Linked DNA regions of Homo sapiens: region 1 is linked to region 2. The links come from fine-mapping of genetic effects on gene expression. A gene starts in region 2. The other region holds a variant in brackets. All regions are shown on one strand. Distances are between the middles of the regions. Region 1 overlaps FIGNL2-DT (FIGNL2 divergent transcript). Region 2 holds the start of ANKRD33 (ankyrin repeat domain 33).

The links. PIP is the estimated chance that this variant, and not a neighbour inherited with it, causes the effect.
Region 1: its variant is fine-mapped to the expression of ANKRD33 in tibial nerve (GTEx, PIP 0.97).

Annotation. Positions count from the first base shown.
Region 1 is chr12:51,852,249-51,857,622 of GRCh38, reverse strand. It overlaps FIGNL2-DT (FIGNL2 divergent transcript), which reads right to left. Exons shown (of 3, transcript NR_135803.1): 3 at 4,894-4,929. Among named protein-coding and RNA genes, the nearest start is that of FIGNL2, 6.2 kb to the right of the region's middle. The variant T/C (reference allele first, on the strand shown) is at 2,184.
Region 2 is chr12:51,884,985-51,890,358 of GRCh38, reverse strand. It overlaps ANKRD33 (ankyrin repeat domain 33), which reads right to left and starts at 2,256. Exons shown (of 5, transcript NM_182608.4): 1 at 2,028-2,256; 2 at 1,541-1,791; 3 at 1,163-1,292; 4 at 877-987. The coding sequence starts at 2,172.

The DNA.
Region 1 (5,374 bases), 33 kb after region 2:
CCAGCCTGAGCAACACAGCAAGACCCTGTCTCTGAAAAATCAATCAATCAATCAATCAATCAATCAATCAATCAAGTACATGAAGCAGCAGTGCTTCTTAACATCATTGGTGTCTAAATTGGATGAAATACGATCATGTATTTTCCTTATAGTAGAAGCCATTATGAGGGGAGTTTTCTGGCACTTGCAGCAGAGGATCTGAATTCAGGGGAGCATAGGAATAGGGCTGAGGAGGAGGTGAGTAAGGGGAAGCAGGGAACAAGTCTATGAGGGAGAGTGGGCAGGGATTTGTGGCAAAAAGCTCAGGAATATTTCCAGAGGTAACTTTGTGAATGGGTCCCTGTTGAAGTGTGTTTGTTCTAACCCTCCAATAGGTTAATAAGAGCCTGGGGTGTATACCACCCATGATGCCTAGCAATTGCTGGTGGCATTGGAAATGCCTGCATTTCCCAAACAAAAATAAGGACATATGACCTAACATAAGAGTTTTCTGGCTGGTGCAGTGGTTCATGCCCATCATCCCAGCACTTTGGGAGGCCAAGGCGGGCAGATCACTTGAGGTCAGCAGTTCGAGAGCAGCCTGGCCAATGTGGCGAAAATTCATCTCTACTCAAACGAACAAACAAACAAAACCTACAAAAATTAGTTGAGCGTGGTGGCGCATGCCTGTAATCCCAGCTACTCAGGAGGCTGAGGCAGGAGAATCACTTGAACCCGGGAGGTGGAGGTTGTAGAGAGCCAAGATCACACCACTGCACTCCAGCCTGGGCGACAGGGTGAGACTCTGTCTCTAAATAAATAAATAAATAAGAGTTTTCCTATATTTAAAATTTTTGTGTGCCCCAGTAAGCCTTTACCATTTACAGCTTTACGGCCTTATGACTGATGCAAGGGAAGATGGAAACATGCTGGGGAAGGATGCTTCGTCAGGGATATCAGGTGCCCGTCGCAGCTCCCAGAAGTGTGGCCAGTTGTTGGGCAAATGTCCAGGGGCCAAAATCCGCACAGGGTATGAGGGGGCCTGGGGTTGGAGATCTGGTTAGTGTTTTGAGCAGAGTTACACATGGATCGGGATTTATAGACTTTGAGGAGTTTGCCTTCCCATCGGGAGGGAGTGGAGCTGTATCAACAAACACACTTTGCGAGAGGGAAGCCGGCAACCCAGGGGCTTAAGTTCCCAGGGTAAAGGGCAGCCCAGGATTTGAACTCGGGCAACCTGGCTCCAAAGCCTGTGCATGCCTTAGTCACTACATTTCGGCCTTTGAGATCTGTGGGGAGTTTTGCAACCACTGAATCCAAGCTCCTGATTTTACAGTTGAAGGAGCAGGACTCGCCCAAGGTCCATGGGGATGGGGTGGCTGAGCAGGACTCGGCTGCGGGGCGTTGTGGATTAGTGTTGGTAAAAGGAGGGGCGGGGGCTGTAGGCATGGAGGCTAGCTGGCCTCCCCACCCTGCCGCAATGCAAAGTGCCCCTGCTTTCCATCTGGGGAAAGGGCGCAACTTGATGGGGGTGGAGGGCGCAGGTTCGGGAAGCCGCCCGCCTCCTTCATTCCCGGGATTCCCAAGGCAGCCATTGTCCAGGAGGAATGTTGGACCAGCAGCACGGAGGGCGGGGCCTCTTCCCGTGCCCCAGACAAGCCTGCTTTGTGCTCTCCACCCCGGCCCCTCCTGGCCGTCACCAGCCAGACTTTCCCAGCATTTTTCAGGGGTCTCAGGGCAGGTCTCTAAGAGATGAAGTTACTTGGAGAGGAAAGGACCATGGGAGATGTACTCAACCCTGGAGGTCTGGGAGGGCTGCCTGGAGGAGAGGTGAGAGCACTGCCCAGAGGCCTGGGCTCCTGGCTCCTCAGAGATAAAAATATGCATTCCTAGCCTCTGGTTACCAGAACTTTATCCTAAGGCAATAATTAGACGCGTGCACAAAGGTGGAAGTTACAGGTTTGTTCATGAAGCTTTTATTTCTGGAAAAAAATCAACAACAAAGGAAACTTTTTTTTTTTTTTCCAGAAGAGTCTTACTCTGTTGCCCAGGCTTGAATGCAGAGGTGAGATCTTGGCTCACTGCTACCTCTGCCTCCCAGGTTCAAGCTATTCTCCTGCCTCAGCCTGCCTAGTAGCTGGGACTACAGGAGTGCGCCACCATGCCCACCTAACTTTTGTATTTTGAGTAGAGATGGGGTTTCA[T/C]CATGTTGGCCAGGCTGGTCTCAAACTCCTGACCTCATGATCCGCCCGCCTTGGCCTCCCAAAGTGCTGGGATTACAGGCAAGAGCCACCGCACCTGGCCAGGAAACTTTTTAAATTAATTTAGACATGTCCACTTGATGGAATATTAAGCTGTCATTAACAATTGTGTGGTATAAACGTATTATAGACAGCAAAAGATGTTCAAAATATTTGTCCATTGTCTGGGTGCGGTGGCTCACGCCTGTAATCCCAGCACTTTGGGAGGCCAAGGCAGGTGGATCACTTGAGGTCAGGAGTTTGAGACCAGACTGGTCAACATGGTGAAACCCGTCTCTACTAAAAATGCCAAAATCAGCCAGCTGTGGTGGCACATGCCTGTAATCCCAGCTACTTAGGAGGCTGAGGCAGGAGAATTGCTTGAACCTGGGAGGTGGAGGTTGCAGTGAGCCGCGATCACACCACTGCACTCCAGCCTGGGCAACAGAGCAAGACTCCCTCTCAAAAAAAAAAATTGTCTATTAAGAAAAGTATATTATAAAACACTGTGGAGATCTCTCTATATATACATATGTGTGTGTGTGTGTGTGTGTGTGTGTGTGTGTGTGTGTGTGTGTGTGTAGAGAGAGATAAATAGAATAATATCTAGCTGACTCCAAAATGGTTTTTTGTTTGTTTTGTTTTGAAATGGGGTCTTGCTTTGTTGCCCAGGGTGGAGTGCATTGGCGCAATCACGGCTCACTGCAGCCTCAATCTCCCTGGCTCAAGCAATCCTCCCACCTTAGTCTCCCGAGTAGCTGGGACCACAGGCCCCCCACCACTGTGACCGGCTAACTGACTCCAACATATTACTGGTGGTTATCTCTGGGTGGTGGGATTAAAGGCGTTGGATTTTTAATTTTTTTGTTTTCTGCTTATCTATTTTTTCTTATTAGTGTTTTTTAAATAGTAGAAATGGGTTTCACTCTGTTGCCCAGGACTCATGCAATCCTCTTGCCTCGGCCTCCTGAGTAACTGAGGCTGTAGGCACATGATGCCTTTCGAATTTTTATAAAAAGGTGTTCTGCTTGTGTAACTAAAGTGTGTGTGTGTGTGTCTATGCGGGCAGCTTAACTGCCCACTACTCTAGGGTGGGTGTCCTTCACCCTCAGAAGTTTCTCCAACGTGGTACCTGCCCTGGGAGGGTAAGAGAGACAGCTGTTGAGGCATTAGAAAAATGAGTGTCAGATAGGCAGCCCCTGAGCCTAATCATAATAGCAACAACTCACTTAGCACTTTGCAAGGCGTTTTCACACACATTATCTTATTTGAGTCCCACTACGACCCTGTGAGGTCACATCATCGTCCTTTTCCAGGTGGGGAGACAGGCTCCCCAAGATTAAGTGGCTCCCCAGAGACAGTGCAGAAAGTGACAGAGGTGGGATTCAGTCCAGGGTCTCTGACCTTCAACCTTGGCACCCCTCTGTCTCCCTGACTCATGTCCATTACAGCATGCAGCATTTGTTCATCCACCTGTTCCTGTCCCCCACTGACCCTGGGATCTTACTTGAGTCACTGTTCCTAGAACTTAGTAGACTCAGGCATCAGTACATGCTATTGAATAAAAGAATGAATGAACATTCAAACCTGGAGCCCTGGTGGAGCAGGTCATGGTAGGTTACAAACTTGTTCTTTAGAGTCCGTGCATTCTTTTTTTTTTTTTTTTTTTTTTTTGAGACAGAATCTTGCTTTGTCAGCCAGGCTGGGGTGCAGTGGTGTGATCTTGGCTCACTACAACCTCCACTTCCGGGGTTCAAGTAATTCTTCTGCCTCAGCCTCCCAAATAGCTGGGACTACAGGTGCCCGCCACCACACCTGGCTAATTTTTGTATTTTTAGTAGAGATGGGGTTTCACCATCTTGGCCAGGCTGGTTTCAAATTCCTGACCTCAAGTGATCCATCTGCCTCAGCCTCCCAAAGTGCTAGGATTACAGGTGTGAGCCACCGTGCCTGGCCTAGACTGTGCATTTTTATACTTGCTATATTCTCTGTATTTATTTCTCTTTTGTTCTTTAACATTTTGCAAAGCTCTTTGGAAGATGGCTGACAGCAAGAGTTGCCAAAGGAATGGCTCTGCCTGGATCTGAACTTGTTCCTCCCCACTGTACACACCCATAACTGGAGACAGCCACCCCTGAGGCCAAGGGAGCAGAGGGGAGGCTCTTGGCTGGCTCCCTTCCTTACCTGAAGGGAAGGTTTCTATCTAGGACCAATGCTCGGGAAGGATGAGATTCTACACACTGAGTCTTGCGGAGCACACACCCTCCCTTCCACACCCTGGCAGACTCCAGACCCAAAGAGGTGGAGGTTCAAGGGTGGGGTGCAGATACCGAGGCTGGATGAGTTAGGGAAGGCATCCTGGAGGAGAGACCTGGAAGGCTGGTGTAGGAAGGGGAGGAGGCTGGGGCTGAAGGGAGAGAAGCAGGGAACCTACTCCAGTAGTGCTGGATGATTTAAGTACAACCAGATGTGCTGGGAATCTCCTGTCAGGCTCAGGCCCAGAGAGGGCAGAGTGGGGGTGGAGAGACCTCTGGGCCACTTGGATTTGCAGTTCCCTATTTTGCCCTGGGTCTGTAAACTTTAGGGAGCGAAGAAGCCCAGTAGGATTCCAGAGGTTCCAGATGGGCTTGCATGTTAGAGGGCGGATCGTGCAGGACTTGGAGGAGGCTTCTGCCTTTGGACAGGATGGAGTGGGCTCAACCCCTGGAACCTAGGGGAAAAAAAAGATTGGAAGTGCTCTGCTAGGATGCGGGACAGATAGGGAAGACTTTACAGAGAAGGGCATACCTGAGTTGGGTTCTGAAGGATGAATAGGAGCTCATCAGGCAGAGTAGGGAAATGAGATTCCAGGCAGAAAGATTCTGAGGTATTAAAAAGGTATGCATGTTTAGTGGGAGTTTCTGTGTGACTGTAAGGTACATGGTGGGATCAATTTGGGGTGCTGGCTGAAGAGCTATGCTGCAGGATGGTGCAGGATGTGCTTCTGCTCAAAGAACAAACAGCAGGGCCATGTGTGGGGTAACGATTTTGGAAGCGAGGTATCAGCGTCCCCAAGTGTTGGGCCCCAAGGAGTTAGCGGAGACTGATAGCCACCCAGCTCCTCCTCCCAAGTCTGAGCTGCATAGAGGGAGGAACATGTTTTCTAGTTTGCCTAC
Region 2 (5,374 bases):
GCTCCACCTAGGGCAGAATAGGGATCTCCTCAATCCAAGGAGCTGAGCAGAGCAGCGGTGCAGGCTGCCCAGGACAGGCAGAGGCCTGAGCTGCACCCTCTGGGGCAGGTGGGTGGGGATGATCGGCTGGTTCCCTCTCCTGGTTCTTCTCTTCTCACCATCTCCCTCTCCCATCTTGGGGTTGTGGGAGGAGCAGTCACTCTAAGACAAAAGAAAGGGTGTAGAGCGCCCTCCTTTTTCATTCACTCCTTTTTCACTCCAAACCCAGTGGGGTGTGTGGGGAAGGGAAAAATGGAGGCAGGGGTCCCCCAGAGTGACCAGCAGAGGGCAGCCCCACTGCGGGGAAGAAGGGCCCCCAAACAACTCCATGGACAATGTGGACTTCACCGCACCTCCCCCTGAACGACCCCACAGAGCCACAGGCCTCAACGACACTTCCCTGGATCCCCTGGAAGCCTGGCTTGTCAGAGTTGGAGGTAGTCCCAGGGAAAGCTAACACCCTCACAATACTGGTGAGGCCCAAAGAGGGAAGCCACTCAGCTAGGAACAGGGGCTGGTTCCAGATGCCAGCCTTTTTTCGTGTTAGATTTTCCAGCTGGGCTAGGTTCCCCTCCCACACTTTCCTTCCTGGGACCTCCACACACAATGTCTGAGCTATCAATAGCAGGACTTGGTTGATTGTACGAAGCCCAAATCATGTGCCCCCCCCTCCAGGAAGGTGAACTAGATTGATCCCCCATCTCCACCTCTCTCCTTTCTGCAAATAATCACAGCTGACTTAGTGTCTGGTGGGAAGGCTTGGAGGAGGGACTGGAGGCCACACACCCCGGTCCAGGCCCCGCACACCTGCCATGAGGAGGGTGGCCACGCACTCACAGCGGTTCCGCATGGCAGCCTTCATTAACGCCGTGAGCCCCCGCTGGTCCCGGCGTTCCAGGTCCAGGCCCACATAGTAGTTGAGCAGGAGACTCACTAGAGGCACGTGGCCTGCAGGGCAGCAAGGGTAAGCTTGGTCCCCAGGAAAGGGGGTGATGAAGCTCCCAAACCGCCCTCCACCCAGCATGACAGAGTCTGGTGTAGAACACCGTGCAACAAGGGTGGGGCTGAGGCCCTGTCTGCATCAAAAGGGGGCTGTCGGAAGTGGGGTGCAGCAGCCTCACACCTGCTTGGGCAGCCAACATGAGGGCCGTGTCCCCTCCTTTGTCCTGCTGGTTCACATCAAGGAAAGGACAGTGGCTGAGCAGGGCCACAACACTCTGGAAGCCGTGGTAGCATGCGACCATGAGGCCTGTCTGAGGGAGGGGCAGCTCAGATCCCCTGCTTTCCCCCTGGGCCACTCCAGGGCCCCTTGCACCCTCTAAACCCATATCTGTCCCAGAGCCTGCCCCAAACCCCGTGAAGACCCGCCCTTAACCATTCCCTTCCTCCTTAGGACTGCAGGAGGTATTGCCCCTGAACCCCTCTCAGGGAGCCAGGCCAGGACGGTGTGGTGGGGATGCAAAGATGCCCCCAGCTGTTCTGGGAAGCCAGGACATCTCACCCTCCCATTGCTGTCCACCTGGGTGGCCTCCTCTGGGGAGACCCCACCATCCAGTATGGCTTGGAGCTGGGTGGGATCATTGTGGACACAGGCCCAATACAGGGCCCCCAGCCTGCAGCCTGGGGTGGGGGTCTCCTTGCCCGGGCAGGGCAGTGCCTCAGACATGTCCAGCCGTCTCCTGTGCAATGCCAGCTCTTCCTCTTCCAGGCAGGGAACCAGAAGGTGAGTCCCTTTTCTCATGCAGCTGGCATCTAAAACACAGAATGGAGAGGAGTAGTGAGTGTCTCCCTGGATCCTAGGGAGGGGACCCAGCAGCTGCGAAGTGCACAGCCCTTGCCCCAGGGAAAACATTTATCCCAGCAGGGGTCTCGCCCCATCCACCCTGAGAAAGGACAAGCGCTGGGTCAGGAGCCCTAAGCAAGCAGGGTTCACTCTAGGTCAGCACCCCAGTGAGACTCACGGAGAGAGGGTCGTCGTTTTTTCTTACTTGGGGTTCGTAGGGTATCTATGAGGCAGTCAACGCGGGGCACAGCCCAGGCTCCGCGGAGCACAATCACTGGGTCTCCGAATGCCTCCAGGTGGACTATCCCTCCCCAGGAAGCAACGCAGGTAACAGATGGCTGGACTTTCATAAAGAGCTGCTGCAAACACCTCGGGGCTGAGCCGGATCAAGCAGCTGGGACTGGGGCCCCATGCGGGGCGGGTGGTCACGTCTCAGGAGCGGACTCAGACCAGCCCCAAGATCCTCCGGGTGGGCGGGGCCTGAGCCGGGCAGCTCCTCCCCGCCGGGGCGGGCTCACAAAGACGACTCCTCCTGACGGACGCGCCCACTCTCAGCCTTGGGGACGCCGGCGGAGATGCTGCCTCGTGGGGTCTTGGCCCAACTTTTTAGGCCCAGCCTAAAGCCCCTCCTAATTGGGTGGAGCGCGACTTGCTGAAGGGGTGGTTGCGGGAGAGGGGGTGAGTGAATGCAGGTATCTCATTAAATAGGGTTGGTACTCTCAGAATGACCCTGGGGTGGGGTCTCCAGGGGGGTCACCTGAACTTATTTTTTGAGGTTCTGGGGAAATAAAAACATAATTGTCAAATTATGAGTATAGAGCTGGGCCCGGTGGCTCACGTCTGTTATCCCAGCGACTCAGGAGGCTGAGGTGGGAGGATCGCTTGAGCCCGGGAGGTCGAGGCTGCAATGAACCGATGTCGCGCCACTGAACTCTAGCCTGGGCAACAGAGGGAGACCTCCTTTTAAAAAAAAATTGTGGCCAGGCGGGGTGGCTCACGCCTGTAATCCCAGCACTTTGAGATTCCAAGACGGGTGGATTATCTGAGGTCAGGAGTTCAAGAACAGCCTGGCTAACATGGCAAAACCCTGTCTCTACTAAAAATACAAAAATTAGCTGGGCTTGGTGGTGGGCGCCTGTAATCCCAGCTACTCAGGAGGCTGAGGCAGGAGAATCACTTGAACCCGGGAGGCAGAGGTTGCAGTAAGCCGGGATCGCACCATTGCTCTCCAGCCTAGGCAACAAGAGCGAAACTCCTTCTCAAAAAACAAAACAAACAAACAAACGAAATTGTGAGTACCGACATTATGTGTCTAGTGCAGGTGGGCAGTCGGGGCACAAAGTGCGGCAGGCAGTAGTGAGGGAGGGATTGGCCAGAAATTATGATGTATGAAATTTAATAGATTAGTTTCAGTGTGATAAATTAAATATGAAATATTTAAATTAAATGATCTGTTAATATAATGATAAATTGTTATCAAAATATTCTTTAATATTTATATTACATATTAAGCTTGATGGATTGGTCTTGGTCCACAGATGTAGAAAATGGAGCCAATGATATTCCCCCATTGGTATCACTCCCATCATCAGACTGTACAAGACCTCTCTCTTGTTTTGTTTTACTTTCTTTAGTTTCTCTCTTTCACCCTTAATCCCCACATCCCATTCTCCTCCACCCTTTACCAACTGGCACTTGTATATCCTTGAAAATGTACATTTCATTGAAAAAGATAGTACTGATTTGTGTGTTTTTATTTTATTTTTTTCTTTTTAGAAACAGGGTCTTACTCTGTCACCTGGGCTGGAGTGGAGTGGCATGATCATAGCTTACTGCAGCCTCAAACTCCTGGGCTTAAGTGATTCTCCCACCTCAGCCTCCCGAGAAGCTACGAGCTTCTCGGAGGCACACAGGTGTGTGCCACCGCGCCTGTCTAACTTTTTTATGTAGAGATGGGGATCTCACTTTGTTGCCCAGGCTGGTCTCAAACTCCTGGCATCAAGTGATCCTCCTGTCTTGGCATCCCACAGTGCTGGGATTGCAGGCATGAGCCTCCATGCTCTGCTTGTATGTGTTTTTAACTAACATGTTATGAATTGTGCTATAGAACTTATTCTGTTAGTTTTTTCTTTTTCACTTAAGCTCCATCCTTATTGCTTTAGGTGCAGTGTATCAGTTGGATGTGCATTTGGTTTTTAGTAACCAAAAAGCTGAATGGTATGTTGTCCATAATAGACGGGCTCCTCAACATTAATCTAAAACTGCTTTCAGTGTTTCTTCTGCGCTGCAGAAGTTGGAAAGCTAAAACAACCCTTCCCAGATTCCCTTGAGCTATGACTCTGTGGTTTGCGTCCTGCTCTTGTGCAAGATATAAATTTGGAACAGAGCTACGTAGCATGGGACATCCGTTTTGCTGTCACAGGTCATGGCAGCAGCAGCAAGGCTCTGGTGAGCAGCTTCCTGATTCATCAGCTTCCTGTAGTAGTGACTGTTGTTTTCTCAATCACAGGCAGAGGTCATGTGACTCTCAAAGCTGGGGGTTGTTCCTGGACCTAAGCCTGCTTCTCCATCCCTTTCTGTTTAAACTGATCAGATTTCTTTCTTTCTTTCTTTCTTTCTTTCTTTTTTTTTTTTTTTTGAGACAGAGTTTCACTCTTGTTGCCCAGGCTGGAGTGCAATGGCGCGATCTCGGCTCACCACAACCTCCGCTTCACGGGTTCAAGTGATTCTCCTGCCTCAGCCTCCCCAGTAGCTGGGATTACAAGTATGTGCCACCACCCCGGCTAATTTTGTATTTTTAGTAGAGACGGGGTTTCTCCATGTTGGTCAGGCAGGTCTTGAACTCCTGACCTCAGTTGATCAGCCCACCTCGGCCCCCTAAAGTGCCGGGATTATAGGCGTGAGCCACTGCACCAGGTCCAGATTTATTTCTGTTGTCTGCAATTGAACTCTGACACATGTAGCTTAAACAAAGAGGTGCTTGTTTTTAATACATGATAAAAAGTTCAGGAATAGGAAACTGTTGATGTTGGTTAAGAAACTTGTCAGGGCCTTCTCTGGGATTCTCTTGACTTTTCCTCCTTGGCACAAGATGGCTGCTAAACCTCTAGCCATCACAGCAAAATGGGATAGATGCACCCTATGGAATTCTATACAGCAGTTAGAAAAAAATCTATCAGATGATAAACCAGACATCTCTGATTATCTAACACAATCCCTGTTCATAACTCCCCTTCTCTCTAGTTACCTTTCAGTTAGGTGTTATCATGTAATGCAGTTTTGGCCAATGAAATGCAAACAGAAGTCTGATGGATAGGGATTCTAGGAAAAAAGTTCATGCTGTTGTTGTAAATAAATTTTCAATGCTGCAAGGAAATAGCACTCGAACATAAATTTAATTTTCTCAGCATGGCAATTTTTACTTCTATAGAAGGGTGCGAGTCGTGAATGGAACAATGGCAAGAGCACACCTGGACAGGAGAGGAGAAGGAGTTCTTATTCCTGACACACGGCCCTACTGCTGTGGCGTTCCCCTATTGGCTAGGGTTGGAC